Linked DNA regions of Homo sapiens: all the other regions are linked to region 1. A link means that fine-mapping ties the variant in region 1 to the plasma level of a protein whose gene starts in the linked region. Region 1 holds a variant in brackets. A gene starts in each other region. All regions are shown on their forward strands.

Region 1 (4,470 bases):
CGCTTCCCTTCCTCTTGGTTAGGATATAAGATGTGTTCTATATTGTCTGTTAGAGTTTGGCAGTGGAATTGAGCTCTGATTGCCTTGATAGTGAACATTTTGTGGACCTCTTCCCTTTCCTGCTTACTTCGCCACAACCTTACTGGAATTTTCTGGGATCAACTTCCCAGTAAACTACTTGTATTTGAATCAGTCTCAGGGTAAGCCTCTGGGGAATCCATACTAAGACAGCCTCTAAGATGTAATAATGAAATAAATTTAAAAGCAATATCCAAATTATTATTGAGATTCTAGAGGACATAGAATTATTTAATCTTTATTATTCAATTTTGGACCTCTACTACTGGTACATAATCGGTATTCAATAACTGCTCTTTAAAATAAAAATCTAATCGAATTGAATTTGCTTATCAGGAACATTCTCACTGACTCCACCCATATTCTCCATCTTTCCCATCTCAATGGCATAATTTATAATTTTGCTGAGGCATGACTTTTTGTTGAGCCTCAGATTTCATTGATGTTGACATTGTGAATGATATCTTCCTTCTTAATATTCATTTTAATCTGGGCTCAGGACTACCATACTTTCCTATTTCTCATATCTCTCTGGGTCTTAGCTCTTTTTAATTTAACTGTGAGTGTTTCCCAAAACACTTCTGGCCTTTCTTCTCTTCTCCCTCTGTTCCCAGTGCCTCAGGGAGCTTATCCACTTGCAAAGCTTCAGCTACTAATTTACAAATGACATTTAAATAAAAAAATCTCTAACCTTGGCTTTTTACCCTTTCTCTAATAGCACATTTCAACTGTTTTGCAAGCTTTCCCATTTAATTCCTCCAACTACACAGTCACAAAGAGAGTTTATTCCTGTCTCCACAGACAGCCTCTCTTTTCCATGACTTCCAGCTTTCAGTCACCTTTAATCCTAGTCCTCTGCCTCTCCTTTCGTACCTCTGCAGGGAGTCCATTCTCTCAATTATCCTGTGTCTTTTCTGCATTTCTACCTCTCCTTCTCACATCTCAAATGCTATTCACACACAGTTACACATACCCATACCTCTCTCCTTTTGCCTGTAACTACTACCATCTCTTTTTCCTTCTATTCAGAGTCAAACATCTTCCAAGACTCTCCATTTCATGTCCAGAAACCAAGCATCATAACTCCTGCTTTCGTAATGATTGTTCTCCTCTTTCTGTCCTGCTACCACTGCTTTAGTCGAAAGCCCCACCGCTTCTCTCTTGATTATTACAATATTCTTCTGTTCTCTCTTGTCATCTTTTTATTTACTCAGACCACAGTATGTCCTGAAAGCAAAACTACAGTAGTCACTTAACTCCTGTGCTTTAAAATCATTCTAAAGGGCACGAGAATACCCCAAGGTTTTGGTAAAGCCTAAAAAAGGCCTTCCTGTTACTCACCTCCCCAGGTGATGCTCACCTCCCCAGTTCTGACCCCTTTTCCACTCTCTTATAGACTTTAGGCATTCTGAACTACATGCAGTGCCCTGAATGTCCATTTTTTTTCCACATCCGTACATTTGGTCATGCTGTTTTATCCTCCTGGAAACCCCTATTCCCCCCTCCCCACCTATCTCTCTTCATCTCACTAAGTCCAATACTTATTTAAAGACTCTGCTCAAAGTCACTTCCAAGGTAGACCTTCTCTGAAGCCTCCTGTCTGGAATAGATAACCACTCTTGGAGTATTTCCCTGGTGCTCTAGGTTTACTAGGATAAGAGCACTGATCACATAACTGTGAGCTCCTGTTTGCTTGTCTATCTCCCCTGCAGACCATATGCTTATTATCTATTTTTTATCTTTCTATCCTTCCCACTTAGAACAATGTCTAGCTTATACTAAGAGCTCAATGAATAACATTGAATGAATCAGCACATT[A/T]ATTTTTTCCTTTCACTTTTCTCCATATCAGGAACAGCTGCACACCCCTCCTTATTCAAGACCCTGCATCCTTCCTGAGGCTTTACATCCATGTCTGTTTCGTCTGTGATCTTGCTTCATCTGCCTAACTCAGCAGAGCAATTACCACAGGAAATGCTATCTTGTACCTGTTTTATTTGTTTATAGACTTGCACTTTTATTTTAGTCTCGTTTGAGAGGAAACTTCAGTAGGACAAGATAACTATGTCTATTTCTTCAGTTTTTATCTCATAAGGAGATATGCCCATGATGGTTTCTTGAGAAAAGTTGACTAATTTCGGTGTAAGATTTGCAACCCTTGGATGCAGCTAGGAGGATGAGGTGTTGCGCCTAGTGAGGCAATTATGATTTGTTTACAACAGACTCAGTTTTAGATCCCTCACTATGACATGGGTGAAGGCCAAGAAGGTGTTCTGCTCTACCATGCTTTCTGTGAAGTCTCATCCAGCCTCACACGTTCCAGTGACAAACCATCTGGGAAATTCCATCTGTCTCTGCTTGGAAACTGAGGTGGCAGTCGCCCACTGTGAGCAATTTTCTATTAACTTCTTGGATAAGATCAGTCAGATTTATACTGAATTGATGGGAACCGTAAGAGCAAGATTGTTCCAAGAGAAGACAAATGTACTGATTCCTCTAATTGGGCTTAAGCCAGTTTCATTCACAGACGCCCTTAGGTTCTAGTAGTGCAAGGACTTATAACCTTTTTAATTGTACCCTGTTCCTCTTGGGAAACATTGGTGAAATTCATTATTGATGGAGGTTGTAGATTTGTCCCTTAGGGAGGGCAAGATCCTGGCTTCTCTTATACTCTATCTGCTATGTGGAGAATTAATGGAAACTGAGTGGACAGAAAAGCTGCTCAAAGAAGACTTGAAGGCAAGAAATGTAATGCAGCAGAGCCTTGGAAAGTGATGCGTTGGTTTGGTTTCTAGAATTAGGGTAGGGTTTTTGTTGTTTTATTGATTTTTATTTTTATTTATTTTTTTTTTGATGGAGGGGGATTACTCAGGGAAAGAGGAGAAAGAAGTTTGTGTGGAGGCCTCAGTAATCAAAGGCCTGCTATTGAATGTGAGTCAGAAAGGAAGAAATTAAACACCGAAGAATTATTTCACAATTGAAATATGTAGAAGCCAGAGAGGTCAATTGCATATTAATCTGAAGGGATTTGCTGTGTTATAATGCAGATATAGTTATGATGTTGGCAGTGGATGAAAATACATTGTCATATGGCACAATGGTATTGAAATGAAAACCTGAATTTGTGCCCTTCCTGATAATTTTTACTTGCCTCCAAAATAATACCTTTTGTGTATAGCTAGCCTGTTAACCTCAATCTCATCCTGACTTACTTTTTCTCCTGATGGTGAAGTCTTTCCAGGTTCTTTACATTTGGACTTGGATTTGAAAGGTGGAAACACAATTCCTTGCTATACATAGACAATTTTATTTATGGACCTAACTTACTCTCCTCTGCCTGAAATTTTAATACATTTTGGCCTTTGGTTTATATGGCTAAACCTATTTACCCTTAGTTAGGCCAAGTTTGAACTTTTAAAAAGAATTATTTTTACAAGATTATTCATTGTTCCCTTTTCCCAGAACTCCAAGGAGAACTTTTGTTGAAGATGATCTTTTCAGTTATTAGGACGATTAGTGCTATTAATTTAATTAATTTCTGAAAGGAGGAATTGTTTATGTCATCATAAGATGATCAAAGCTGATCCACTCTATGTGTGTAAAGTTGAGACAAATGAGTCACATAACCTTTTCCCACAGAGGATCGGTGTGAAGGATGAAGAATCACTATTGATTTATAGCTCCAGATACTGTTTGTGGGAGTTGTGATTGTTCCCACACATAGGGATCCTTACATGAATTTTCTTAATGCAGATTTCATTGCTACTGTCATTTCTTCGTATTTGCCAAAAACAGAATCATGAAGGCCTAAGGTGGAAGTGGGTGGATATATAGCATCCCTGCCTCTCTAGGGAAATCTATCACCATCTTGACTAGTGAGGAAGTGGTTTGTAAAGCATAACTATTGTTTTTGTAACACAAATTCTAAAATATCAATCTTGAAATGTAGTTTTCCCTGGAGGGGAAGGTAGAAGTAACAAAGCACTGTGAGGAAGAGTTGTTCATGGAGTTGACCAAACTGTCCTCTGTTATGTGCTGATAGGTCTGGCATGCCTTTTAAATTCTTTCTATTTGATGTTTTTGAGGAATTGTCATTCTATACTGATTTCAAAACAATTAGTTTGGCAGGATATGCTTACATGGTTGTAACAAATATTGTGCCAGCATTATGAGGACTTAGCATCAATCTCAGCTTGACATGACAATTAATACATTCAGTAACTTGGAGATGATAACAGAGAGAATGGAGATAGGTACCAGTTTGTACTCCTTCAGTTTGGTCTTAAAAATCAAAATTACTTAGGGATAATGCTTTGTCAAACTCTGATAACATATTGGACTCTGGTTTTAATCTAATTTTCAATAAATATTCCCAGGATGGGATTCACCAAGTTT
Region 2 (4,470 bases), not on the chromosome of region 1:
ATGCTGACCAGCCTGGAACTGCCAAAGCCCTGAATTCTCTCACATTTTCTTGTGATGAAAGCATATGGTGTGCCGGGTGCAGTGGCTCATGCCTGTAATCCCAGCACTTTGGGAGTCCAAGGCGGGTGGATCACCTGAGGTCAGGAGTTCGCCACCAGCCTCACTAACATGGTGAAACCCCGGCTCTACGAAATACAAAAAAACTAGCAGGGTGTGGTGGTTCATGCCTGTAATCCAAGCTACTTGGGAGGCTGAGACAGGAGAATCGCTTGTACCTGGGAGGCGGAGGTTGTGGTGAGCCGAGATCGCACCATTGCACTCCAGCCTGGGCAATAAGAGTGAAACTCCGTCTCAAAAAAAAAAAAGAAAGAAAGAAAGAAAGAAAGAAAGCAAGAAAGCATATGGTGTCTCCTTTTTGTCAGGACTCCTCAGTGAATCGGACATGGATTTGGTGCCACCTACCCCTGCTGAGAGCAGCAGGACATGATATGTATACACACATATCTTAATTAGCCTTAAATTCTGAGCAACCTTGGTTGTTAGGTCAGAGAAAATCTGGGATGGGGATAGAGAAGGAAAGTATTGTGGCTTCAGCCTGGAGAAGAGAGTGGAAAATGGGATGCAGGGCCTGGGTGAGGAACTGGCAAACGGGCGCAATATGTTGAGGGGTAACTTCTGCGGTGGGGAGTGGGGCTGGGGAGGGGAACTGCACAAAGCTGTAACTGGGACCACTAGAGGTCAGGATTAAAAGGCGGTATGGGAGAAATTAACCTCTATTCTTTCCCTATCTACCCCCACACATAAAGCCACTGGAGCTTTTCTCTGGACTCCAAGTCCTGAAATACTCCATTATCTGAGGCCAAGAGATGGGCTAACAGTTCTGGGACTTCCTTCCTGAGACCAGCTGCCCAGGAACGGGCACCTGCTGGGTGATGCCCACCTTAGGGGCTTACCTTGTCTTAGGCGCCCACTAACATATCTGTCTCATAGCTCACACCTGCCTCCCTGCCCCCTTGGCAGAACCCCTTCCGGTTCCTTCACAGGACCCCCCACATGGCTTCCTCCTCCTTTCACAAGTTGTGCAAAGAGGCTTGCACCTGATTCAATATTGGGATTTCCTGTAGGTCTGTCAACATGAGTGGGCCCTCCTCCCATTACCCTCTCCTTGCGCCCTGGCTTGCCTGGCCCAGCTTCCCCAGCACCAGATTCAGAACCTTAAGCTAACGAGGAATGACCAGCTAAGAATGGGGATTGGGGCTGTGTCCATCTTACTACTGTGTTTGCTAAGCCCTAAGTGCAGCTCCCTCTCTTATTTTCTCCCTGGGCTCATGTCCCCTTTCCTTAGGGCCAGCCAGGGCTGTGCTGTATTCCACCAAGTAAGTGATCAGTCCCTCAGAAACCAGCACCCCACCCCCTACCCCTGCTCTGCCCTGCTCCTCCCATTCTGGGAAGGCTACACTCTTCTCGACAAAGGTCAGTGCCTGTAGGTTCCAGTTTGCCTGCCCCTCCCCCAGCTGGGAGCCCATTTCTCTTTGCTGTCCTTTCTACCCTCACATAACCCCACACCCTGCTGGCCACTCACCGGGTGGAGAAGGGCTCCAGGACCCAAGTGCACAGCAGGCAGCCCTCTGGGGAGCAGATGGGTAGGAAGACATGTGGCGGTGGGGCACAGCCCCTCCACAGCAGCAGGTCATACGCCTGCCTGGGCCACTTCTGCCCAATCAGAGAAGGGAGCCACCAGACACTGGTGAAGGCCCCCGGAAGTGACGCCTTCTCTTCCCTGGAGCCCCTGCCTGGACCAGGGTCCACTCCTCCACCCACACACACCACGGAGAAGATTTGGATAGGGGGATCCATCTTTTCCTGGACATGGGCAACCTGGGACCTGGAGGGGGACAGGAGCAGAAGTTTTTTTCCAGGAGGAATCTGGCAGGACATTTGTGTTGCTGGGGAAGAAGCACAGAGGTCTTGTTTAAGATTGGTGGGGTTTTCACTCCCTGGCTATCCAAATTTCTTTTCCCTGGACATCATACCTGCTGCTGAAATCCAACAGGATGCTTGCTTTCCTGCTTTTCTTTCTGTAATCCCCTAGGGAGTCCTATCTTGTCATTCCCCCTTTCGAAGTGGGAACACGGATATTGCCCACATGAGAGAAATCTCCTGTTATGGGTTGGTGTTATGGGGAAAGGGTTTGGACGGGTTGAGTGGACTGTCAGGTGCGGGGCACATGTATGTGCGCACACGTGCACTGGGTTAAGCCTGAGCTTAGGTGCTCGTCTGCTGGGGTCCAGTGGCTTAGATGGCTACACACACAGACCTCTGTGCCCAGGGCCCTCCTTTGCTTGTTCTGTCTCCGTCTTCCATCTCCTACCGTTCCACATGTGACAAGAGGAATAACCAGGCCCATGTGTCCCTGTCTTAGGAAAGACAGCTGCTGGACCTCCCCCGCAAATACCTCCCTGCTGGCCCCCCTTTTCCTTTGGCCCTGGCTCTAGCTCCTTTGCTTTCTTCCCAGTCCCAGTCTCCCCACAGTCTCTGTCCTCAGGGGCTTCCTGGCCTGACCTTGATCCCATCATCCCCCTGTCCCCCAGAACTTCCTCAGGCTCTCTCCTGTTCCTCCTCCCCAAGGATGGGCATGTCTGCTGAGAAGTGTGGCCTAGATCCTGGAATTTTCCCGTCCAGCCAGACGAGATGTCTCCCAAGATTAGGAAGGAGGGTGCTGGGATAGCTGGGAGGATAGTGGGTGTGTGTGGGAGGGAGAGACAGGAGACAGGGAGGCAGGCATGACCAGGGAACCAAGAGAAAGGAGGCTGGGAGTGGGCTGGAGAGGCAGAGGGTCCCTTGGGTGAAGGAAGGGGGTGAGAAAGCAAGAGGGGACTGTCGAATGCGCCTGAGGATAAGTTACAATGAGAGGGAGATACTGTCACTCCACAGAAGGGGGAATGCTGCCGGTTTCTGGCTAGGTCCCTGTCCTGGGTAACACAAGAATGAGGAGCGACCTCAGAGAGAAGGTAGGGAGGCAGGCTAGGCAGTGAGAGAGGGTGGTGAGGGTTTGGGGGGCGCTGTGGGCCCAGGCAGGGGGAGATCGGCTGATGGACCTTTCCTGTACGTTGTCATCTTTAAAGACAAGTCTTCATCCTTCGGGCGGAACCGGGTCCTCGCTCACAGAGCGGTCCAGGCCTCAGGCCTAGCCTCTGCCCCTCCCTAGCCTGAGGCTCCCTTCCTGGGCTGGACACCGACCTCCTGGTCCAGCCGCCCTGTGGCCGCCAGCAGCGGGGGGCTCCGGGCCCGCCTCTCCTCCCCCTCTTCGCGCCCCCTGGTCCCTCCCCTCCCCCTCCCCCGCTCCCCCTTCCCCTCCCGCCCCTCCCTCCTCCCCTGCCCGGTCCCAGCCCCTCCCTCCCCTCCCCCACCCGCGATCCGGGCCGCTGCTGCTGGGTCGGACCCCCCGGGCTCAGCCCGGCCCCTCGCCGAGCTGCCGCCGCCGCCCCGTTTGCTGAGGAGGAGGCCCCCGGCCGGGGCGTCGGGCGCGGGGCATAAAACGGGCCGGAGCCGGCGCCCGGGGCAGTAGAGCCGCGTACGGCCCGGGTCAGCGCCCGCCCGCCCGCGCTCCTCCCGGCCGCTCCTCCCGCCCCGCCCGGCCCGGCGCCGACTCTGCGGCCGCCCGACGAGCCCCTCGCGGCACTGCCCCGGCCCCGGCCCCGGCCCCGGCCCCCTCCCGCCGCACCGCCCCCGGCCCGGCCCTCCGCCCTCCGCACTCCCGCCTCCCTCCCTCCGCCCGCTCCCGCGCCCTCCTCCCTCCCTCCTCCCCAGCTGTCCCGTTCGCGTCATGCCGAGCCTCCCGGCCCCGCCGGCCCCGCTGCTGCTCCTCGGGCTGCTGCTGCTCGGCTCCCGGCCGGCCCGCGGCGCCGGCCCAGAGCCCCCCGTGCTGCCCATCCGTTCTGAGAAGGAGCCGCTGCCCGTTCGGGGAGCGGCAGGTAGGTGGGCGCCCGGGGGAGGCGCGGGCGGGGAGTCGGGCTCGGGGCGAGTCAGCGCCAGCCCGGAGGGGGCGCGGGGCGCAGGTGGCTCGGCGCGGCGGGCGGCCCGGAGGGTGGGCGGGGGCAGAAGGGCGCGGTGCCTGGGACCCGGGACCCGCGGGCAGCCCCCGGGGCGGCACACGGCGCGAGCTGGGCAGCGGCCTCCAGCCAAGCCCGTCCCCGCAGGCTGCACCTTCGGCGGGAAGGTCTATGCCTTGGACGAGACGTGGCACCCGGACCTAGGGGAGCCATTCGGGGTGATGCGCTGCGTGCTGTGCGCCTGCGAGGCGGTGAGTGCACCCCGCGGCCGGCCCGGGCCCTGGCGGGTGGGGAGCGCCGGGTCGCGCGGGCGTCGGAGTGGACTCGGAGCTGCTGAGAAGGAGCCCAGTCGGCAGATGTTGGGGATATTTTTCTGGTGGAGGAAGGGGAATCAGCCCCTCCAATTCTTAGGTGCTGT
Region 3 (4,000 bases), not on the chromosome of region 1:
TGAGCTCCTCTTGGGGCCTCTCTGCTACTGGGTGCTCTGCAAGCTGGGTCCCTGTGCCCTGGATCTCTAGAAATGTTTCTCAAATTGGGGCTGCTGAACAGAGGGCAGCCCAGCCAAGTGAGGGCAGGAAGTGGGCAAGAAAGCAGGAAGGGTCTCACAGGGCCACCAGGGAGGGCAGTGCAGGGCAGGTGGCCCATGACAGGTGGGATGCTGGCTTGCCTGCCTGCCACCATCCTCTGTTCCTTCTGGAAGCCATGCCCTGCCATGAGCCATGGCCTTGGTGCTGAGACTGTCCATTCCACCTCCCATTCTCCTCCTCCCTCTGACTGTCACCTTGAGAAGCATCCACCCTGGGGCTTAGGGCAGCTGTGTCTGTGACATGTGGAGCCCTCCTCCTCCTCAGAGGCCCAGGCCAGCCTCCAAGTGCTGAGATAGCCAGCTGCCTGTGGGCACCCAGGTTGCTAAGGTATCTTCCAGGTTCAGCCTCCTCCTCTCCCTCTTATCCTATCACCCTCTCCTTCTATTCCATCCTGCCCACTGGGTCCCTGTGCCAAGCCCTCCACCTCCCTCCTGCCTCCCTCCGAGTCCCTGCATGACTCATACTTTCCCTGGGCCCTCCCTATAAAGTTTGGTTCCACAGGCTCTTTGAAGAGATCCAGCCTCTTCAGCTCTGGGCAGGCAAGAACTAGGCAACCAGGCCATGGGTACCAGGGCCTCTGCCCCCAGCCCGGGAGCCCCTGTGTTGGGGCCAGGATACTATCTGAACATGCTGACAGTCTGGACTTTGGAAGGGGAAAATGGTGCTTCCCTGTGTGGGCTTCTGTGTTTGAGCTGAGGAAACTGAGGCCAGAGAGATGCCGTAATTTATCCAGGGACCCAGAAGGGGCTCATAGCTGAGCTGAAGAGTGTCCCACATCCTCCCCAGTACTCCACACTGGTCCCTGAGTGGCAGCCTTGCTAGGATGGCAGGAATCAGCTGACCACTTATTCCTGGGCCATCAGACCCTTAGAATAGGGACCAGGTGGGCAGTGCTGCCTCTGTGTCTGAAAGTGGACCCACCGTGACCAGTGCCCAGTGCCCACCAAGGCTCAGCCAGGGGTTTCACCAGGGCATGGGGCACTGGCTGAGCATACCACGCCCTCTGTGTCCTCTGCAACACTAGAGCCCTGAGACTAGAGGGGCAGAAAGATGCCAGCTGTCAAAAGCCAGTGATATCCACCAGAACACACTGACCGCCCCCACCCTGTGCCTCTCCTTCTTTGCAGAAGCTACCTGTGCCCTGGGTTCTCTGGGCAGGGAAGGGCTGGACAGGCAGCCCTCAGGGGACAGCCCTGCCTGCCACTTGGGCAGCTGTCAGAGCATGCAGATGTGCCCGATGCCTAGCTGGGGCACTTGGCACAGTTGCCACTGCACCCTGCCTAGGGGTCCCAGCAGCCTCTGGGCGGTGGGTGGAGTGGGGTGCACGGTCACACAGGCTGAGAGGGCCCCCAGGACGCCCCCATCCCACAGTTCCCACTCCAGTCTGCTGTCTTCTCCCAGCTTTTTCCCAGCGCCCCGCCTCCCCCGACCTTACCTAGGGACGCAGCCAGGAAGAGAGCGAAGAGCAGGGATCCCCAGCGCCAGCTGCCGGCCTCCAGGGCCGTGGGGACGCCCATGTCGCCGTCGGACGCGCAGAGGAACTTCTGGTGCCGGGGAGCGGGCGGGACGCGGCCGGCGCGGGGAAGCCTCCCGCGACTGAGTGCGAGCGAGTGAGCGCTGCGGGCGGCCCCAGCGCCGTGCTCCAGGCACCCGCCCCCTTCGCGCAGCGCCCCCGGGGGGCCGTGTGGGGGAACTGCCTCTCCGAGGGCCGCGTGGGAGGGGCTTCCCGGAGGCCGGCCCCGTGGGTGGGGAGCCAGCGTGCGTCCCAGCGAGTCAGCTCCACTTGATCGGCAGTTTAAAGCCCGTTCTACCGTCCCCCAGTCCTTTTGGAGAGAAATTATTATTGCTGCGCAGCCTAAGAAGTAGATCTACCTCTAACAGCGTGATAGACGTTACCATGGCTTGCATCTGCCCTCAGCCACCAGCCTTTGAGTGATCTGGGGACAGAGACTTGTACCCTACATCCTCCAGCCAGACCAGGGCTTGGTATGTGGTAGGCACTCCCAGCTGTGGAATGAGTGAGTAAATGAGTGAATGAATGAAATCTGACATTGTGAAGAGCTAGGCAAGCTGGAGCCAGTTTAACTGTAGATTCAGAGCCTGAGGCACCCTGAGTGCATGCGCGCGCGCACACACACACACACACACACACACACACACACACACAGAACAGGTGCAGGACTACACGCCAAGATCAGCACATCCCTACCCCGGGACACACACAGATATGCAGGCAACACCTGTTGGCGTGCCCCACAGCACATCCTGCAAGCTCCCCTCCGGCAGAGGCCTCAGCTGTCCGCCTGGCTGTGCACCCGCCCTCCCTCCCTGGTGCCTGGATATCTGCAGGACACTCTGATGCACCCTAACTTCTAGTGCCTCTGCTCTTGCACCCACACCCAGCACTGCTGGCACCACTGGAATGTCTCTCCCCTCCTAATTCTTCTCATCCCTCAGGGCTCAGCTCAAGTCCTCCCACTTCACGAAATGTCCTGACCCTTCCTTTTTCCCGGCAAATCCTTACTGTCCACACCCCCTTCAGCTACCACCTCCAGCCTGAGATAACCAGCAGTTGGTTCTTCTTCCGGCTGTTCTGCCCTCCAGAGCGAAACTACAAACCTCTCTCTGATGTTTCTGAGACCCTAGCACAAAGCTGGGCGTGGAGAAGGTTTTACTGCACTTTTATCTGAATGGACAAACCAATGAGTGAGTGAGTGATTGTGTGATGGAGGAGCAGAGGTGATCGTGGCCAGGACCAGGGATCACAGGAGTGGAAGAGCACAGCCATTTTACTCAGTTTACCCCAGTCTAGCTGAAGCTTCCAGGGGTTTTTCTGGCACTTTAGGGATCTTGGGTTAATAGGTGACTCCTAGGCTGAGAGGCAGAGGACACTCAGAGTCTGACTGGGTCAGGAACCAGGGTATCAGGACTCAATGGGAGCCAGGAGTCCTGGGGGCCTTGTGGGTGGCCTGATCCAAGTCACGGGCTCTCTGGAGGCCCTTAGCCCTTGCTCTAAGGGCAGGGAAGGCTACAACAGAGGAAGGCTGAGGCATCATGTTATTACTAAGTGAACTTGTGCAGGCCCAGTCCCCCTGGAGCCAGTGAACTCCCCAGGATGGGAGCCCCAGAGGCTGGCAGGACATAACCCAGGTCCTTGGGCATGCTCCTGGCCTTGTGACCCCACCTTGGAAGGCAGCCCAGGGCCCTTCCTGCTGGCATAGCATGAGCTCCCTTCCACCAGGGGAGGTACAAAGCCAACTGAGATCAGGTGGACACCGGGCCCTTCTCACCCTGACATCCTCTGGCAAGTGAGGGGGGTCCCTTAAGGGCAAGATCCTAGAGCACCACCCCATCTCAACCCTTCCTGGACTGGCTTTGCTCAGGACACCCTTGAAACCAGACTCCCTCTTCCCCAGGGCCTAGCAGCCGGGGAGGGCCTGGAATTAGAGAAAGGGGAGCAATTGCCCTGCCAACCCCTTCCCCAGGGGGATAGAGCCTCTGAGCTGGGCCCAGTTCCCTCCCCCCTTTTCACTTCCTTTCTCCCTACCACACTGCCCACCACTGAGCCTCCTGGGGTTGCATCAGGGTGAGACACAGGCATTGCCCAAGGACCATGGTCCAGAAACCTCAAGCACTGTTTCCTCAACACCAGGGCAGGACAGGAAGGGCTCAGCTGAGAGGGCCTTTGGAGCACTGACTTTCTCCTCCCTCCGAGACCAGAGGAAGTCAAACCCACCTTCCCTCCCCAAGCCCAGACCTGGTCTCAGAGCAGGAGGGGCTCCAAGGCCCAACTCTGTTCAAACTCTCCACTCCCAGCCCCTGCAGCCTGCACACTCCATCATGTGTTTGTGCTTGTTTTCA
Region 4 (4,470 bases), not on the chromosome of region 1:
AACCAGTTTAAATAAATACGGGCAGCGTTTCAGCCCCATCTGGAAGCCATCGCTGCCAATCTCCCAATGCAAACAAGCCTCACAAAGGAGGATTGAGATCTCTCCCCTGAGCCAGGGGCACTTTCGGAGGCGAGGGCTCTGAAATGCAGATGAGGGTCAAAGACGCCGCCGCCAGTAAGTTTCTCAAACTCGTGGAAAGATGGAGAGGAGGGGTGTGGCCGAGCTCTAGGTGTCTGACATTCCTGACGTCCACGCAGACTGCGCATTTCCCCACGTCACACCTTTGGGTCCGCTGACCCCAGGCGGGGGAAGTTATAAAAGGTGGGATGCTCCAGGGCGCAAAATCAGCCTCTCGGATGCAGAATCACACTCCCTCTGGGAGGAGGAGCGACTGGAAGGTTTGGGCCGGAGAAGCTGTGGAATCACTCCCTCCCAGGAAAGATGCGGCGATGAGAGAGCTCTACCGCCTAATTAAGCAAGCGACCCTAATACCGGATGGAGAATTTGAGAATTATTTTAAAGCCACCCAGCTAATTCCATTGCGCACTAAGGCAGGGGTCAGTCAAGAAGACAGCTTTGTGGGCGTGTGCTTGTAAATGTAGTACAAAAATATAGTCAGTCTGAGTCCAGGCCACGTATAGTCACGCTGTATTCCTCAAATGCCCAGGAGCGCGCCTCCAGCTTAGCGCACTACCGGGTGACCCGGCCAGAGTCTCCTGCTCCCGGCTCCTCGCAGCTGCGCCGCAGGCTCCAGCCCTGCCCCCGCTGCGCTAATGACCGGAAAGCCCGCCTGAGCCCGCCGCCTTCCACGCTATCCCTGGAAACAGCCTGGTGGCAGGAGAGGGCCCACAGAGCCTCGAAGGCAGAGAACTTTTATTCCCCCCGCCGAAGAGTTTCCCTCTGCGATTGATTTACAATCTGTAACATACAAAGACAGGGCTGGAATCCCAGCCGTCGGAAACGTGCCCAAACACGTGGAAAAAAAAATCCTCTCTACCTAATACACTTTCCAGGCTTCGTTTGTCCTGAATATAATCCCAGACAGTGGACCTTACCAAAGGAGGGGTAGAAAGGTGCAGTCCGAACAGCATTTGGACCCGACTACAAGAGCCATCTCTAACTATACCGGTTGAAATAGTTGTAGCAACCGTAGCAATCGACCAGCCTGCTCCCCTTCCCTGACACACACATACACACACACACACGCACACACACACACACCACGCAGCCTGGCTCGGTGAGTTCCAGAATTTAGAAAAGTAACTCATTGTAGTACCTCGGGGCGGCGGGGAATGGGGTAAGACCGCGGGGAAGGGGGCGCTATTTTCGGGGGCATTTGAAAAGCACGGTCTGGTTGGAATGTTATCGTCTTTCAGATGGCCTCTCCTACTGGAAGTTTCTGTACCCTTTATCAGAAGAGAGGCGCAGGCGGACGGAGGGAAGTCGAGATGAGCGCTAGGGCTGCACCTTGCTCCAGGGCCAGCTGGGAGGGGGAGGGTACCCTAAAGAGGCGCTGAGGTCTCAGAGGGCCTATCGGAAGCCGTTCTTTGTGGCCTGGGATTTCAGCCCACCAGTGTCAGAGTGTTAGTCCCCTTTGTCTAACTCTGCTTTGAGCCCACCAGCCACCAAGCCTTGGACAGGCTGTGAAGTCAACCCTTTGGCGTTTGCTTGCTCCCTCGCTCGCGCTCTCTCTTTCCTACTTCACCTAAGTTCGATGAGTTGAGATCTGTTTTTGCTGAACTCGAAGTGCTTCGAAGAGGCGAGCTGTGTGCATGTGCGCCTAATTATCAAAGCTGGTGGAAAAGAGCCCATTTATATCTGTGCGCAAACTTCTCCGAGCCAACACTTTGCAAGTTCAGTATTCTAGCGCAACGTAGGGACCTGCAAATACTTGCAACTGCGATGGGCACCGAGGACCCTGGGACAGAGTCCTTGATTGGCAGAACTCTTCTTGGTGAACTTCTGCGTGTCCTGTGCCTAAGTCGGCGCGCTACGACCCCGGGAGCCGTTTTAGCCCGGAGCCGCGGGCTCCAGAGCTGGAGCGGGCCGGGGAGAAGGATGCTGAGGGACGCATGGAAAGCAGGCAGGCAGGCAGGGGCGGGGGAAGACTTACGGACATCCTGGCCCTGACACCGAAGGACAGCGGCGACGAGCAGCGTCAGCAGCACCAGCGTCTGGGGAGCCCCGAGGCGAATCATGGCTCACCGCGGGGCCTGGCTGAGCCGGGCCCGGGCGGAGCGCAGCGAAACGGCAGGAGCACGGCGCGGGTCCGGGTCTCTACCGCGCCCTCATGCAGGAGGCCCTTGGAGCAGGAGGGGGAAGCGGGAGACCCGGCAGCCCAGCAGCGCTCTGCGTCTTCTCCCCGCCGCGGCGCCCGTTATATGCGCCCGGCCCCTTTCGAGGCTGGCGAACTCGCCCAAACCGCGGGCCGCCCCCTGCCCCCCGCTGGGCTGTAACCTGAACCGCCCGCCCCCGGAGCCCGCCTGGGCCCTGCCAGTGCCCGCACCTGCCCAAGCCGGACCCCCCTCTCTGGGAGTCACGCTTCCCGCCCTCCACCCCTAGTGCGCCGAGTGGCCTGATCGGGCGGGGCGCAGAGATGGCCCCTGCCCCCCAAACCCGGGGCTGCGGCGCTGCCCCCCTCTGACCACAGGCGGGAAGGGTGGCCTCCGGCCCCTCCCCTCGGAGTTCTGCCGGAGTTGGAGGGGAGGGGGTGTTTGCAGAGGCGCAGGCCGAGAGCCCTAGACCAAGGACGGAAAAGACATGGGAGGGAGGAGGGAAAGCGGTAGAAAGGAGCAGCGGAGGGCGAGGGGGCACCGCGTCAGGCGTTTGGGAGTGGGGACAGGGAGGAGCCCACAGAGATTCAGAGTCCTAAATCTTGGAGACAGGCTAGCTGAGCCAGATCTGAAGGGTTACCCCGACCTATCTTTTAGCCCTTCCCTGCAGTACCTGGTCCCCAGACTCCCACCTGGACGTTCACAGCGACTGCCCTCCACCCCTCCCCCATCCAGCTCTGCGTTGAAGGCTTCCTCTGGAGCACAGGCCGAAGTTGGCCTGAGCCGACAGCCAGGAAAAGAGCTGGTGTGTTACTGCACAGAAGGAGACCTGTGTGAAGGTGTGGGGGGCAGGGGCAGGCCCTGGGAAGGGGACTGAAAGAGCCACAGAGGACGGAGGGAGCCGAGACTAAACGGTGCAAGCTGCCTGCTGTGGGGGGACTGTCTAGCTCCAGGCTCAGACGTGGTGTCTGCTCTTCCTGGCTGGGGTCCGGGAGTCCCCCGGGGAGTGGGCACTGCCGGCCGTCGTAGAGCAGCTTTGGCCAGGGACGGTTGGTCACTGCTGCGGCCCTGGCCAGGGATCGGGGAGGCCGATCCAGCTGGCGAGTTCTGTGAGCCGGGGAGAAGCGCCAGAATTTCCCAGTCGGCCCCCTAGCCCTCCGCTTGCCGCCTCACCTCACCTTCCCCGGTGAGCGCCCTCTCTCACCTTAGCCAAACTGCCTTCTTCCCAGGGCTTAGCTGGTCTCTTCTCTTGGTCTCCGGTGCCTCCTTTCATACCAGGGAGGAAACGTCCCCAAACAGACCTTCCTTTTGAGCGATATGGTCCCCCAAAGAACTATAGGCAAAATGAAACTCAGAATTTGGGGTCTGACTTAACCAGAACTTCTGCCCTCCTGGGCAGTTTTGTTTCTCTGGAGCTTTCCCCCTAGAAGCTGAGAGCACTTGAAAGAAGCTACTTCTGGGCCTTAGGCTTCCACCAGGGGTCCTGGGACCCCATCCCTAGCCTATCATGCTTTGACACTTGTCCTGGTAGAGGCTGGAGTTCCAAGTGCTCTGGTTGGAAAGGGAAAGAACTCATTGTTGAAGGAAATGCTTCTAGGCTTTGTCCAGTCTGGATGGAGATGGGGAAGAATTCAACCAGTTTCCAGCATCTCCCCTACCTTCCACGGGCCTTGTCTGAGTCTCCATGCTCCCATTCAGGGGCTTGCATTAAGCTCTGGGCTCTTCCTCAGGCCCAATCTCTGCTAGAAGAAAGCTGGTCTCTTGCCATCAGTGCCCCATGTCCTCTTTGGGGCTCAGAAGGTCCTATATTCTCTACCTGGAAGATAGAATGACCAAATTCCACACATTTATCAAGACCTCCTAGGTTAAAGCCCCTCTGAGAAGCCTTCTCTGATATCTCTAGAACACAACGTCTCCCTGGCTTTCTGAATCCCCCTGGCATTTATAGCCTAAGCTACATATGTTTTTGTGTAGTTTTAATTTTTTCCCCTTATATCCATTGGTCTTTATCTCATCAATGAGCTTGGAAGATGCTTGGGGACAAGAACTGTGCCTAGCACAATTCTAACACATAGGAGTTAGGAAAGCCCCTGTGGACTAATAATTTAGATACAACTATAAAGGCATTTATACAACTGACTTCAAATACAAGTTGTCATAAAAATTCAACAGAAAAAAAAAGAATTTGGGAGAACAC
Region 5 (4,470 bases), not on the chromosome of region 1:
AATAATTACTAACATTTATGTGTGGCTTATTTATGACACACATTATTTTAAATACCTTAAATTTATTAACTTTTTTAATCCTTCCATAAACTCTATGAGGGAGGCAATATTATCCCCATTTTAGGGATGAAGAACCTAAGGTACAGAGAAATTAAGCAACATGACCTGATATACACAGCTAACAAGTGGCAGAGCCAGGTTACCTCATTATTCAAACTCCAGAGGATGTTCTTTTAACCAGATCATATCTATCTTTTAAAAAATTGTTTAGTTCATGCATGGAAAACACTTAGTATTCCTGGCATATTAAAATGATTAATAAATTGGAACTGTTATCATACTACATTAAGAATGACACCGATCATCAATTTAGTAACTTTTGTTGTTCAAACTGTGAAATACCAAGTATACAAAAAAGAGAGGAAAATTAAAGCTTTTTTTCCCCAACAATCCTGTTAAAATTAATAATAGATGACAACAAGTCAATAGCAAATTTTTATTTCATGTGAATATTTTTGTAAGAATAGTGTGGGTATAAGTTTTAGGGTTTAAAAAATGAATGAAAGTTCTGTTGATGAAAAAAGTAGAATTTAGAATTAGGAGTCTAGTAAGGTTGAAGTCCTATATTGTACTTATTTATAAGGCTCATTCTAATGATAGAATTATAACTATGTAGATATGTTAATTCATTTTCATCATCTATTTTTGTTCTACTAGTGGCAAATATATTCACTTTAAACCAGCTAACCACAGTTTATAAGATTCATATTCACCAATTTATTATTTTAGTGTTTGATGGCTAAAATAAACATCAGAATAAACTTTCAGGGAGTATTTTAAATAAGACATCCTAGGACTAAGACACTGAGAGACTCCATTAAGTTCCTAAATATATTAACAAAAATGTATTGAGCAAATATTCTCTGTTGGGCTCCATGTAATTCCTATTATCATTGACCATTATGAAATCTAATAATACCCATGAGTATGTCTAATAACCATAAAGTAGACCAGGAAAAATCAACCAAGTTGTGTTAGAATAGAAATTTTTAAAGAAAAAAATGCAAAGTACAGTCCAATGTTTAGGCAAGAATTAGAGGGTTGAAACCAGGCTTATTTATTTTCATCTTCTTTCTGCCATCTTTTAACCAACCTTCTCAGAATAAAATGTGATTTTTGAGACAGAATGAAACACATATCCAAATTTTAATACAGTAAGAATAGGTATCCTGAATAAATGAGAACTCTAGAAAATCAAGGTTTCAAAATTCTACCCTTCCTGGGAGTTAAAGAAGTTTGGCAGAAACAGAACAAATTAATCAGCAGATTCATCACCTGCCAATTTTTTCTGTACAATTTTCTTGATTCTGGGAGCATCTGGGTCCAGGCAGATTTTCCTCCCATCCTTCAGTGTGGCTCTGCAAAAGAGAACAGGGTTATCTGTGGGTGTCCTGATCTGAATATCAGAACTAATCCATGAGACTGGAGGAAACGAGTGCATATGTGGATGGAGGTAGAGGGTTTCTCTGATAAGGCAATAGCACAGAAACAGCAACTTACATCACTTCGACTTGGTTGCAATGGGTTCCTTTCCCGATCACTTCCAAACTTTGGATGTTTTTGGGATGAATTCCAGAGGTTGTCTTTATACACATGCAGCGGAGTTCAGCATACAAGTCACTGTCTAGACTTTCCTCTAGGGTAGAAAATGTGACCTATTGGTGGTCATGAATATTTTCCTCAGGTCTCTTATTTGCAGATTGAGGGCAATTGTACCTCTCTCATAAAGCCATTGTGAATATGATCTGTAACGCTTTAGTAAAGTGCCCAGAAGATTGCCCAGCACACAAGAAGTGAGAAGTGACCCCCCTGTGTGTCTCCTCCAATTGGAGTTATTGGTATAATGGCCCTCTCCAGCCCCAAAGGCACCAAGCTAGTCTTTACCCCAGAGACAGGTGTAGCAGAAGCAGCAACAAGTGCAGAGAAGCAGGGCCTCTACCTTTGCCTTTCGCCAAGTTTCTCTTAGTTTGTCCTTTGGTGGAGGAAGCCAGAGCAGTCAGCAGCAATGACAGAAGCAGCAGCACCTGCAAGGCATGAAGTGGTCTCGCACTGTTACAGGAAGGGGTGGTATCAAGTCTGAGGCTCATGGTGGAGAAGGCTGAGCTAGAGTTGTTTCCAGAACCAGAAGACCTCTGAGTGAGGGTGAGTTGCTGCCTACAAGTCTGCAGATAAGTGGCTTCTCATGCCCTGAAGATGTCATTTATATGCTCTTTCTCAAAGCCAGTAAGAAGGAAGAGGTAGGAAAGGAGGAAGTGAGGGTATGTGGTGATACACACATAAGCATTTGAAGCTGTGCCCAACCCAGAGAAAGACCAGACAGGTCAAATTCCTACTAACTTGCTTAATGTGCATCACTTCACATTCCCACTCTCCCTTTCTCAATACTTATCTTCCTTACACCTGTGTAAGAACTCCGTTCAGGAAGGTAAGAACTAGACTGAAATACTACATGCATTTTCTTTGTATGATTTATAACAATACGCCCTGCCTTTTCTATACTGCAGTTTTTAGGCTTAATAGAAACTTTAGGAGCACCTGAAGGCACAAACATGTGGCCCTTGAAAGAGAAAGTTATCTTTGCTTGCCAAAGAAAGCAAATGTTCTTTTCATGAATGTTGATAAATATTGGGATTGGTTTGGAGCATGTAAGTAAAATAAGAGCCAATTACCGTCAAAGGTTGTCTTTGGATTTTAGCTTATTGGATTCTTTCTGCCTTCAATCTATATTATCTTTTGTAATTTCATCTAGAAACTACAAATGAAACTCATCCTCCTTTATATTACAAAAGAAGCTACTTGTTTCTACCACCTAAGAATACCTAAAAAGTAGGACCCAGCATATTTATTTTTCTTTTTATTTTTAATTTAACAGAAAAATTATATAATTTATTGCAAAAGATTCGTATGCTGCAGATGTCTTTGAAATAAAACACAAATTTCTCTTCATCATTTCTCCACATTCCTACTATTCAGTGGTAAACACTGGTAACAATTTTGCATTAGTTTTCAATTCTGTCTGCACTTATATGCACACATGTATATGTATACAATGAGACACGTTTAAGACATAGAGGTACACATATACATAGAAGTATTGTATATGGATCACTATACAGCTGACTTTTATCCTTCAAAAAATATGTGTTCCTTATCTTTTCAGGTCATCTTAATGTAGTTTTCCCCCATTCTTCTTAATGACCATGTGACGTCCTGTGATAAGAACAATAGTTACTCAACCTTGCCTTGTTGGTGCCCTTCACGGTGTTTCCAATTTTGCACTATTAGAAATTGTGCAAGAAATGTCCTTACCAAGGAAAATATTTGTTCCTGAATTCTCAGACCCAAATTAAAGGTTTTGGTCTGAAATGCTATATCCCTACAAAGATAGAGAGGTGGACCTACACATTACATGTTGGCTTTATGTTATTTTCTGGTTCTCTGTCCCATCTGTAAGACTTCCTTCCTCAATTGAACCATGCACTTTTGTAGGGAGTGGCATGTCCTGTGTTTGTTTGAATGTCTCATGTATCCTATAACATGTAGGATACTTCAATATAAAGTAGGTCTTAAATAATTAATAAATCAATGAATACGTATCACATGAAAGCTTCCCTATCCTTTCTAATCACCTACAATTCCAGGCCAAACTCGACAGGACCCAAAGCAACTATGCTATTTAAATTTATTTGGAAGATTGTCAATAAAGAAGAGGCAGATGTAAGTGGCACTGGCAACAAGTTTTCTTCCTTTTACAACTATGTATAAGTCTCACAGAATATTATTTAAATTTTCCATATTCTTTTCTTACTTTTCATATCCTTAAATTTTAGAAGAAATGCTTAAAATACTAAATGTTCAAAATTACTCTCTATCAAAAAGATGAATATAGTAATTTTTTAAATCATGTTTTTGTTTTCAAGCCAATTTTCCCTATTGTTTAATAGTTATCTACTATGTCTACTCAAGTTCTCAGGTCCTGTTTTTAAATGCGATAACCTACAGACCACATTTGACAGTTTACTTTAGAAGTAAGCAGACTTCCAAATTAACTCGCCCTGGAAAGGTTTCGTGACTTGATGGTGACATTCTATCTCTGAGTAAAGTATTTTATTACGAGTTCCTCAAATGATTGATGTACTAATTACTGTAGAACCTACTGACACTAAATAGGACAATGATTTATTTCTAAGTTTAGCTGAAACAAAAAGTTTTATTGATTGTTTTGTATGTAGACATTTAGCCTGTATGCTGTAATCTGTAGCTAATGATTTTAACTTCGGTATTGTACCCTCCAATGAAAAAGAAGACAACTCTGGTATGAGGAGTTTTTCTGCCTTATTTTAAGCTTTTCTATTATATAAAGCCCTTGTAACTTGTGAAAGACTCTAGAACACCCCCAACTTTGTGGAT
Region 6 (4,470 bases), not on the chromosome of region 1:
CCACCGGTGTCCGCCCCGCCCACCGGTGTCCGCCCCGCCCACCTGTCTTCGCCCCGCCCCCTGTCTCCGCCCCGCCCCCCTGTCTCCGCCCCGCCCCGCCTGCTCACTTGTGTCCGCCCCCGCCCCGCCAGCCCACCTGTCCCCGCCCCGCCCGCTCACCTGTGTGCGCACTGCACCCCGTGGCTGCCTGCCGGGCAGGGCAGCTCGCAGCGCGCTCCGCGGAAGCCGGGCGGGCAGGTGCACTCGCCGGAGGCGGCGCTGCAGCGGCCCCGCACACACTCGCACTGCTGCTGGCATTCGGGACCCCACCAGCCCGGCCGGCAGGCGCAGCGGCCGGAGTCCTGCTCGCACGGGGAGCCGTGGCAGTTGCAGCGGAAGCTGCAGCGGCGCCCCCACCAGCCCGGCTTGCACACGCAGGCGCCCGTGGCCTGCTCGCAGCGCGCCGCCGCGGTGTTGCACTGGCACGGGCGGCGGCACGTGGACGACCACCAGCCGGGTTCGCAGTGGCACACGCCGGTCGCGGGGTCGCAGCGCCCGTGGGGGCCGCAGGCGCACGGGAACTCGCAGCGGGCTCCCCAGCGGTCGGCCTGGCACTGGCACGCGCCCGTGGCTGGCTCGCACTGGCCGTGCGGGTGGCAGGGGCAGCTCTCACGGCAGTCGGGGCCCCAGTACTGGCCCGGGCAGCCTGCGGGGGTGGGGACGGGAGGGGTCAGCGGGCTCAGGGCCGCGCGCAGACCCTTACCCTGCGTCCCCTTCCTCAAGGAAAAGGGGCGCTGGGCCCATCCTCCAAGAGCCGGGGACAGACCCTCAGAACATCCGGCAGCCTGTCCTGGGCAACACTCACTTCCTGCTCCGCTCTGACCTACAGAAAACCCTTAGCCATTAGTGGGAGGCTCAGCCTGCCACTTCACATTCCAGAACACACTCAGAGATCCTGAGTGGGCAGGGGACTTGCCCAGAGCGTGGCACCGAGGTTGGTGGGCCTTCCTCCATGCCTGCTCCTCCCTGCCGAGATGGATCTCTGCTGGGCTGGAGGAGAGCTGGCTTTCTCCTGATCTCAGGCCTGGATACTGCCCGCCAGGGTGTCGGGAGAAGCCACCTTTCCCCTAGTGATTCCTTGATTCCTGATGCCCACCCTCTGGCTCTCCTGCTTCCCAACCCCTTTCCCTTCCCTCTCTTTCTGCCAGAGAGGGCAGAGAGCCCAGCCAGGGGCCCCCTTCCATCCACTGCCCATGTATAAGGTATATGTGGGAAAGGCAAGTAATACACTCATTTTACAATGAAGGGGAATCACAGGTTTTCTGAGAAGTGGAAGAGGAAGATGCTCAGGTGGGCAGTGCTTTGTGGATGTGGGTAAAAACCCGGTGACTCAGGTCATCTCCCGGGAGTGTGTGTCACTTCCTGTCTCTGGACCGCAATTCCTCAGTGAAGCTGGGGGGGATTCTGGCCCTGCTGTCCTGAGGCTGCATGGCTACCTGCCTCGCCTGCTCCCACACCACTGCCCCCGTACCCAGCTCTGCCCAGCAACTTCATCTGGCCCTTGAGACTCACGGGAGCTGCAGTGGGCCCCAAAGAATCCAGGCTTGCATCGACAGAGGCCCGGCTTCACACACACCTCGTCTTTCTGGCAGGCGTCCGGCCCCTCACAGATGGCTGAAAGACACCCCACCCAGGTTGGAAAGACGGGAGCAGGACCAGGGGACACCCCTGCCCTCTCACTGGCTCCAGGGGCCATGCCTCCTCAAGAGGTGCCCCTTCAGGCCTGGGGGTGCGTCACAGGAGAAACCCTGACTCCTGGTATCAGGAGGGGCAGGCCCCATGGGGTAGGAAGGAAGGGTTGTCACTGGGCTACGGCCTCCCTTCTCCTTGGCTGAGGGTCTGTCCTGGCTACTCACGGATGGTGCATTCTTGATCCTTCTGCCTCCAGCCTGCGCAGCACTGCAGCTCAGCAGAGGGGCTGTGGGGCAAAAAGGGGTCAGCCGGACATGGTGGGGGGTGCAGCCTGGCCCTGAGGAAGGTGGATCACTGTCTCTGGCTGCAGTGGGGGAGGCTGCCTTAGCCCCCTGGGGAGGCCTAATGGATCTTTACAGCTAGGGTCCCCAGCCCCTCCCCTCTCCTTCCCTGACCCTTCCACCATCTGCCCTGGCTGGCCACTACCTGCCAGACCGCCATCAGCAGTCCCTTCCTTTCAGCCTAAGCCCCCTTCCTAGTCTCCTCCTTCCCCTAACGGCCTCAACACCGGTTCAGCCACCCGCATCAGACTCCCACGAGACCCACCTGCTGGCCACACGCATCAGACTCCCACGAGACCCACCTGCTGGCCACACAGACGTGCTGCCCTTTGGGGTCCAGCTCGGACCCCTGAGTCCCCCGAGTCCAGAGCAGCAGCAGCGGGAGCAGCAGCCCCAGCCCCATGGCAGGCAGCTCGGTGGGAGCGCTCGGGTTCGTCTGGCCCCCACAGCTCCCAACCCCCTCCCTGCTTCCTCTCAGGGCTTTTCCTGAGGAAACCAGGCCGGAGGGGCGGGCTGCCACGAGGCACCTCCCTGAGAGGGAGGGGGTGGCTGGAAAGACTGACACTCAAAAAAAGAAAGGGAAAGAAAGGCAATGGCAGGGCTGACTGGCCTGGGCCTGGAAGGGCCAGAAGAATGAAGTTGCAGGTCCCTGGGTGCCGGGGCCAGGGAAGGGGGTGGACTGAGGCTGGGAGCCACGGCTTTCCATCAGGCCACACTCCCAAAGCAAGGCCTGAGCTGCAAGAAGCCACCCCACCCAGTGACTGAGCAAGGAGACCAGCGAGGACCCCTCAGCCTGCCTCTGCTCCTGGCAGGGTTGGGAGGTGGCACAGACATGGACAGACAGGCGAGGAACAGTTTCTGTGTATTACGGGCAGTTCTTTATTACATGAGCTCAGGCCGTCTGCACAAAGCCCTGGGAGCTAGGCAGTCAGCTCTCATTTCATGGATGGGGAAACTGAGACTCAGAGAGGCACTCTTATATCTGGCCCCAGAGGCTCGGTACAGAGACGTAGAGAGGGAGGCGGGCTGAGACCCCGTCCTGCCCTGATGCAGGCCAGGATTGGGGCAGACCCCTGGCGAGGGCTGTGAAGGCGGGAGCCCTGTCCTCATTTGAGGCCACACATCCTTCCACAGCCAGACCCCTAAGTCAGGCCTCTGGGGCGGCTGAGGCCCCCAGACAAAGGTGTTCGTGGAGGGCAGAACAGGGCGGATCAGGAGCTGGAGACTGTGGTTGGGCCTCCTCTTCTCCCCCTAGCTTGCTGGGTGCAGGGCTGCTGGTCTCATCCTCAGAGGATTCAGCTTTACCCCGATACCATAGGCCAAAGCTGGAGAGAGACAGCCAGAGGCACTTTGAGCCAGGAAGCCAGAGAGGTCAAGGATATGGGTGAGGGCAGGGGATGGTGAGAAAAGGGGAGAGGGGGAAGAAAGGGCAGCCTGAGGGAGTGTGAAGGTGATGGGGGCCAGGGCCAGAGAAGCAGGAGGGGACGGTGTGCTTAGAGCCAAGCACAGCAGGGTGACGGGCAGAGAAGCGGGAAAGGGGATCCTGAGAAGGACCAGCCAGGGCCCTTCCTCCCTCCCCACACTCTTGCCTTTCCCCTTTCCCCAACATACAAACTCTGTATTTTGGACTCCGGGGGTGGGGGATGGTCTCCCTTGTCATCGGAGAGCAGGATCCATGGGCCAGCCTCATCCTCACTGAGACAGAGGAGAGAGGAGAAGTGAGGGCCATTGATCAAGGCCCTGAGGGACAACAGGAATCCAGCAGGGGGGATGGAGGGACTGCAGGGCCCCCGGGGCTGGAGAGAAGGCAACCCTGGGGAGATGCAGGATGTCGAGCCTTTAATTTTTAATTTTTTTTTTTTTGAGACAGGGTCTCACTCTGTCGCCCAGGCTGGAGTGCAGTGGTGCGATCTCAGCTCACTGCAACCTCCGCCTCCCAAGTTCAAGCGATTCTCCTGCCGCAGCCTCCTGAGTAGCTGGGATTATAGGCACATGCCACCATGCCCGGCTAATTTTTGTATTTTTAGTAGAGACGGAGTTTCACCATGTTGGCCACGCTGGTCTCGAACTCCTGACCTCAGGTGATCTACCCACCTTAGCCTCTCAAAGTGCTGGGATTACAGGCGTGAGCCACCGCGCCCTGCCAAGGGTTTATTTTATAGCTTGACACACAGCAGGCCCTGACACAGCCGCGGCTACAGTTTCACCCCCGTAAGAATAAACAGACCCAGCCAAGACAGGAACTTGAAGAATGAATGTGGAGAGGCAGTGTTGTCAGGCAGAATGGATGGCAGGCAAGGCAAGGGGAGTGGTGAGATCCAGGGAGAAGGGCGCAGGCTGGACAGCGGCCATGGGACACAGCCAGAGCAGGTCAGCAGGCCCTAGAAGCGGCCAGGCTAGGGAGGCTCAAGGGGTGACCGGGTTGGGGTGACAGCCTCAGTCTGAGACAATGGGCTCA
Region 7 (4,470 bases), not on the chromosome of region 1:
ATCTGCTCTATTTACCACCTATGAGTATCCAACAAAGTACCCAGACACAGTAGATGCTTAAGAAGATTTATTGGATGACTGGGTAAACACAGAAAAGTCTGTACAGGGGAGATGGGGGAGGACGTGAGGAGATACTTATGACCTCTATTCTCCTGGTAGAATGGGCTACAAAGTCACCTGCCAAACCCGCAAGAGGAAAAGCATTGGAGATCGCTTGCATTGAAGATTACAGTGGGAGTCCGGTTTGCAACCCGGAAGGAAGGAGCTTGCGGGTTGGAGGCACTAAGAGTTTTCAGAAGTTGAGCATCTCAAGAGAGGGCAAGACTTGGAGGTACTTAGAGGACTTGGTAGCTGGAGTACATGGAAGACACTGGATTTGAGACAGTCAAGGAAGTGCGCATCTAGAGCGTCCCCCACATGGACTTTAGGTCTAGAGGAGGAGAAATAGCCCAAGAGCCAAAGTCCCCATGCGATGGGAAAAGAACTGGCTGGAAGAGGACAGCAAGGCTGAGATGCACCCAGGGACGTGGCCAGGTCACCACCTCATTTCCAACTCTACCACCTCAAACAATCTCTGACTGGTATTTAATCACCCTTGTGTGGAAGTGAAAATTAGCTTTTTTTGGAGACAGTACTTTTAAAATTAAACTAATATGAAGTTCATGGGACACGGAAATTTTCTGCATAGATTCATTTTTGTTTTTAGAATAAAATACGATGACATTTTCATGACCTTCAGTAATTGCCCTGCATGGTACGATATTTTCAAACATTATTTTAACAAAGAATCAAAATTTGGGGGTTAAAAGAAACCTTAGATTACTCAGGTTAGTACCTTCATTTGCATAGCCAAAAATTTTTCTATTGAAATACTGCAAATAGCAAATAAGTACTGATTTAGACCTTCAGATAGTGTTGAAACTGTCTTCAATTTTCGAAGTGTGGTTTAGGATATACAAATTAGCAATGTTGACAATTCTTCCAGTTATCTGTGCTCAAGTTTTGATATAAAATCTTCAAAGTACACAATTATCACATATATTGTTCCACAACAATTCAGACAAATAAACGGCTTCTTGGCTTGAAAGAGGAAGTCACACCTTCGAACACCTTTTTATGCTGATGCTAAATATAAGAACGTCCCCTGCAAAGTAGCCAAAGCAAGACAGCAGCATTCGAGATTTCTCCAGAGACACACACACAAAGAATGTGTTTCGTTCATTAAAACACTAAAACCTTCAACAGCATCTTCCATAATACCTGAAGGTGGAGTGCTGTCTTATGTAATAGAAGCCTTCCTTCCCCGCTCAGTTTGTGGACACATTAAATGCCTAATTCCTTCCAGAATTTCTGAGTACCGTACTTTCATTTTACCTGCAGTCACTCATCCGCCTCGCAACTCCCGTTTCTACAGATGATGAAAATAGCAAAGACCTGCTCGCTCGGGTTAAATCGGCTGCCAGAGGCCAAGTTAAAGGCTTTCCCCACACCGCGCGTCACCTCCCTCTGCCCAGGCAGAGGTAACAAGTAAGAGTGCGCCAGTCTCTCCCCATCCGGCGGCGCGCAGCCTAAGTCCGGGGTAGGGGTTGCCGGCGAGCAGCTGGAAACCTCAGGTTCAGGGTCAGGGCCGGCTCGGATGGCCGGGCAGGAGCCACGCCGGCCCCGGTGCTCCCAGCTGCGGGTATCACTGGACGCCACCCCGGGGCGGCCCCGCCTTGCCCTGCCCGGGTCCCGCTCGGGGCTCCCGGCGGGCGGGACCGGGATGCCCGGCGAGCACCCAGCCCCGGCCAAGGCGGCCCGCGGGAGGCTGAGAAAGTTCTCTGCTCCCCGACGTCGGCGCCCCAGGGTCCCGCTGGCCCCGCAGCTTCCCGGCCGGGCGCAAGGTCAGGGAGCAGGGCCGGTGGCGCGCGGAGCCCCGGGGAGCGTCCCCCGCCGAGGGCAGCGCCGGCCGCGCCCGGGACTCACCGCGCAGCCTGTACTCACCGCGCTCGCTGGATCCCCAGGGGGCGGCCGCGGAGGGCGGTGCGGCCGCAACCGGAGCGGGAGCCTGGTCTCGGCGGCGCGGGGAGTCGGAGGACGCAGCCAAGCGGCGGCGGCGAGGAGGGTCACAGCCGGAAAGAGGCAGCGGTGGCGCCTGCAGACGCCGCGCAGCCCGGGCAGCCCCACAGCGCAAGCTGGCTGCCGCGGCGGCGGGGGCTTTATCGGCGGCGCCGCGCGGGCCCCCGCCCCTTCCTGCCGCCCCCGCCCCCGGCCCGCCTTGCCCCGCCTTCCCGCCGCCTCCTTTGTGTGGCCGCGGGCCGCAGCGTCCCCGCGCCCGGCCTCCAGGACGCCCCCTCTCCGCCTGCGACTTCTCGGATGCCGCCCCGCCAGGGGTCCGTGTCGTGGGGCTGCGCCCGGAACGCGCCGGGGAGACGCGCAGACCCCGAGGTGCGGCGCCAGCCCGGGCCCAGCTGCACGTGGGTCTCCCGGATGGGGGTGTGTGAGGTGGCGGGGGGAATACCAGGGCTCGTACCGCGTCCCTGAGACGCAGGGCATGTCGTCTTGGCTGCCCCCTGGAAGAGACAGAGGGCGCCCTGAGACAGCGCTCAGTCCTCCGGGTGATGGGGAAACGGTGCCAGGACGCGGCCGGGAAGGGGCAGATAACCCCTCGAGGCGTTTTGCAGGGTGTCCTAGAGCTGACTTCTCCCTGCCTAGGGGACAGAGGAACGGCGGCAAGTCGCCTTAGGCAAATACAGACGAGGGGAACCAGAAAACTGGATTCCCGGCTATGGTGATAGCATGAGGTACCCGCAGCGTCCTGGGAACCCAGCCCTTCTCAGCCGGTAACCACTGCTGCTGGGACCCGGTGCGCGATAGACAGGCACATACCCCAGGGGCCTGCAACAAATGACCGTCCCGCTCCGGGCTCTGTTACCTGGACCTCTCTTAGTTGGTTCCTCCTTTGCCTCTAGTTAGGTTTCTGGGGACCCAAGGACCCAACTTTAATGACAGTAATTTATGTAGCCGTTAGTGTAGAATCGTCGCTAGCAGGCAGACGGCCCCAACAGCGAGGAAGAAATGTAAATCTCCCTATACACAGCCCTGGATTAAGGGTACAGCTACTGATGAGAGCCACTTGGAAGATCAGCCTGCAGTCACCCCTTGGCATGCAGGTGGCCGTGCCAGAGTGTGCACGTGTGTGTTGGGGAAGGGGTTGCTCTGAAAAGTGTAAAATCTGGACCAGCCTAAGGGTGTTCTCAGTCTCTCATAGAGGGAAACAGGCTATGGGAGGCTTGGTCCTAAAATAAGGAGCAAACAGTCTACAAAAATGAGCATCTGTTTAATTATTTTACAGTCATACCAAATATTTATATTCAGTTACAGGGTAACTTTCTTATTCTCTGTGCCTGAAATGCTTTTTGTCCCAGGATCTTCTATGTTGTCTGCATCCTTACACTTGAGGTCACAACTCAAATGTCCTCTCCCCTAGGAAGCCTCCCCTGACCACTTGAGATAAAGTCACTTTATCCCCTCTAACCTATGACTTCCTTCATAACCCTCATCATGAATTGATTTTTTTTTTACCTTGTTTCTTGCTAGTTTTCTTCTACTCTCTCTCATTGGAATATACTCCCAGAGACCAGGGAAGAGAAACTAATTTCAATATTGTTTCCAACTCACTCTATCCCTAGTGCCTAGAGCCATACCACACATATAGCAGTTACTCAATAAATTTTGTTGACGAGTGGATGAACTACTAGCCAAGTGACTTTTAGACATGCTAAGAACTGTTTCAGTGACAGTATTGTGCTTGGTCCAGTCAGGGCGGTGTGGGCTGGAGCTGGGAACAATTCAAAGGAGGGGGGAAAGCCCACAGGTGTGAATGAGCTCGTTCAGTGTGTTTGAAAAGCTGGGAGTATCCTCTTCCAGATGGAAGGGAGTCATTCAAGAAACTACTGGAGAAATAACTGGGAAATGTGGGTGAAGCCAGATTATTATGAAAATGTGCCAGAATCCCTGCATCCATTTCTGTCTCAATCACATTTCTAAATTAAAATTTGTAATAGAGGTAATTGTAGGCTGGCATGCAGTTGTTAAGAAATGATTCAGAGAGGTCTCTTTTACACTTTGCCAAGTCTTCCTCATGGTAACATTTTGCAAAACCATTGTATAATATCACAATCAGGATATTAACATTGATACGTTGATTCCTATCTCACACACTTTGGTTAATTATGTGTAACTTTAAATTTTTACTAAAGTTACTCAAACCAGTGAGAGAAATGCACAAAATTACTATTTTGAAGAGTTTCAGTCTCTTGTCTTGAAGGAGCCAATGTTTTTCAAGAAAAAACAACAACAAGCCTTTTTTGCTTTCCCAATTAGAGTGTAAATAGGGTCCAAATTCTTCATCTATGAAAGACGTTAGAAGTCCTTAGGACTTACCTCTTTGGGTTACACTTTAATGACTGACATTTACTTCCCCATTCT

Direction of the effects. Positions count from the first base shown, and alleles are read on the strand shown. Strength reflects both the effect of a copy and how common the allele is.
With allele A in place of T in region 1, the plasma level of the protein whose gene starts at base 1,715 in region 2 is higher (moderate association).
For the plasma level of the protein whose gene starts at base 1,737 in region 3, allele A in region 1 goes with a higher level than allele T (moderate association).
In carriers of allele A in region 1, the plasma level of the protein whose gene starts at base 2,353 in region 4 tends to be higher than with T alone (moderate association).
For the plasma level of the protein whose gene starts at base 2,234 in region 5, allele T in region 1 goes with a lower level than allele A (moderate association).
As copies of T replace A in region 1, the plasma level of the protein whose gene starts at base 2,450 in region 6 goes down (moderate association).
For the plasma level of the protein whose gene starts at base 2,171 in region 7, T is the low allele of the variant in region 1 and A is the other (moderate association).

What was found. PIP is the chance, under the fine-mapping model, that this variant and not a neighbour inherited with it causes the effect. Protein levels are from antibody-based Olink assays in UK Biobank. Linkage for the fine-mapping came from a reference panel and not from the study's own genotypes, which makes the PIPs less certain.
Region 2: THPO starts here. The variant in region 1 is fine-mapped to the plasma level of the THPO protein (UK Biobank, PIP above 0.99).
Region 3: VSIR starts here. The variant in region 1 is fine-mapped to the plasma level of the VSIR protein (UK Biobank, PIP above 0.99).
Region 4: it holds the start of COL2A1, and the variant in region 1 is fine-mapped to the plasma level of the COL2A1 protein (UK Biobank, PIP above 0.99).
Region 5: it holds the start of PPBP, and the variant in region 1 is fine-mapped to the plasma level of the PPBP protein (UK Biobank, PIP above 0.99).
Region 6: it holds the start of SCARF1, and the variant in region 1 is fine-mapped to the plasma level of the SCARF1 protein (UK Biobank, PIP above 0.99).
Region 7: it holds the start of SERPINE2, and the variant in region 1 is fine-mapped to the plasma level of the SERPINE2 protein (UK Biobank, PIP 0.93).

Annotation. Positions count from the first base shown.
Region 1 is chr8:105,567,404-105,571,873 of GRCh38, forward strand. All of the region lies in intron 4 of ZFPM2 (zinc finger protein, FOG family member 2), which reads left to right. Among named protein-coding and RNA genes, the nearest start is that of ZFPM2, 250 kb to the left of the region's middle. The variant A/T (reference allele first, on the strand shown) is at 1,897.
Region 2 is chr3:184,376,493-184,380,962 of GRCh38, forward strand. It overlaps THPO (thrombopoietin), which reads right to left and starts at 1,715. Exons shown (of 6, transcript NM_000460.4): 1 at 1,583-1,715. It overlaps CHRD (chordin), which reads left to right and starts at 3,562. Exons shown (of 23, transcript NM_003741.4): 1 at 3,562-3,974; 2 at 4,200-4,303. The coding sequence starts at 3,827.
Region 3 is chr10:71,771,784-71,775,783 of GRCh38, forward strand. It overlaps VSIR (V-set immunoregulatory receptor), which reads right to left and starts at 1,737. Exons shown (of 7, transcript NM_022153.2): 1 at 1,575-1,737. The coding sequence starts at 1,656. The region is part of intron 38 of CDH23 (cadherin related 23); the gene reads left to right. RefSeq lists silencers at 1,537-1,616, 1,637-1,966.
Region 4 is chr12:48,002,124-48,006,593 of GRCh38, forward strand. It overlaps COL2A1 (collagen type II alpha 1 chain), which reads right to left and starts at 2,353. Exons shown (of 54, transcript NM_001844.5): 1 at 2,114-2,353. The coding sequence starts at 2,198.
Region 5 is chr4:73,985,957-73,990,426 of GRCh38, forward strand. PPBP (pro-platelet basic protein) reads right to left here and starts at 2,234. Exons shown (of 3, transcript NM_002704.3): 1 at 2,000-2,234; 2 at 1,561-1,696; 3 at 483-1,418. The coding sequence starts at 2,147. The coding sequence ends at 1,316.
Region 6 is chr17:1,643,283-1,647,752 of GRCh38, forward strand. It overlaps SCARF1 (scavenger receptor class F member 1), which reads right to left and starts at 2,450. Exons shown (of 11, transcript NM_003693.4): 1 at 2,315-2,450; 2 at 1,896-1,957; 3 at 1,552-1,653; 4 at 160-685. The coding sequence starts at 2,415. It overlaps RILP (Rab interacting lysosomal protein), which reads right to left. Exons shown (of 8, transcript NM_031430.3): 7 at 3,624-3,707; 8 at 2,868-3,337. The coding sequence ends at 3,160.
Region 7 is chr2:224,037,116-224,041,585 of GRCh38, forward strand. It overlaps SERPINE2 (serpin family E member 2), which reads right to left and starts at 2,171. Exons shown (of 9, transcript NM_001136528.2): 1 at 1,984-2,171. LOC124907991 (a long non-coding RNA gene) reads left to right here and starts at 2,287. Exons shown (of 2, transcript XR_007088103.1): 1 at 2,287-2,427. RefSeq lists a silencer at 2,337-2,631.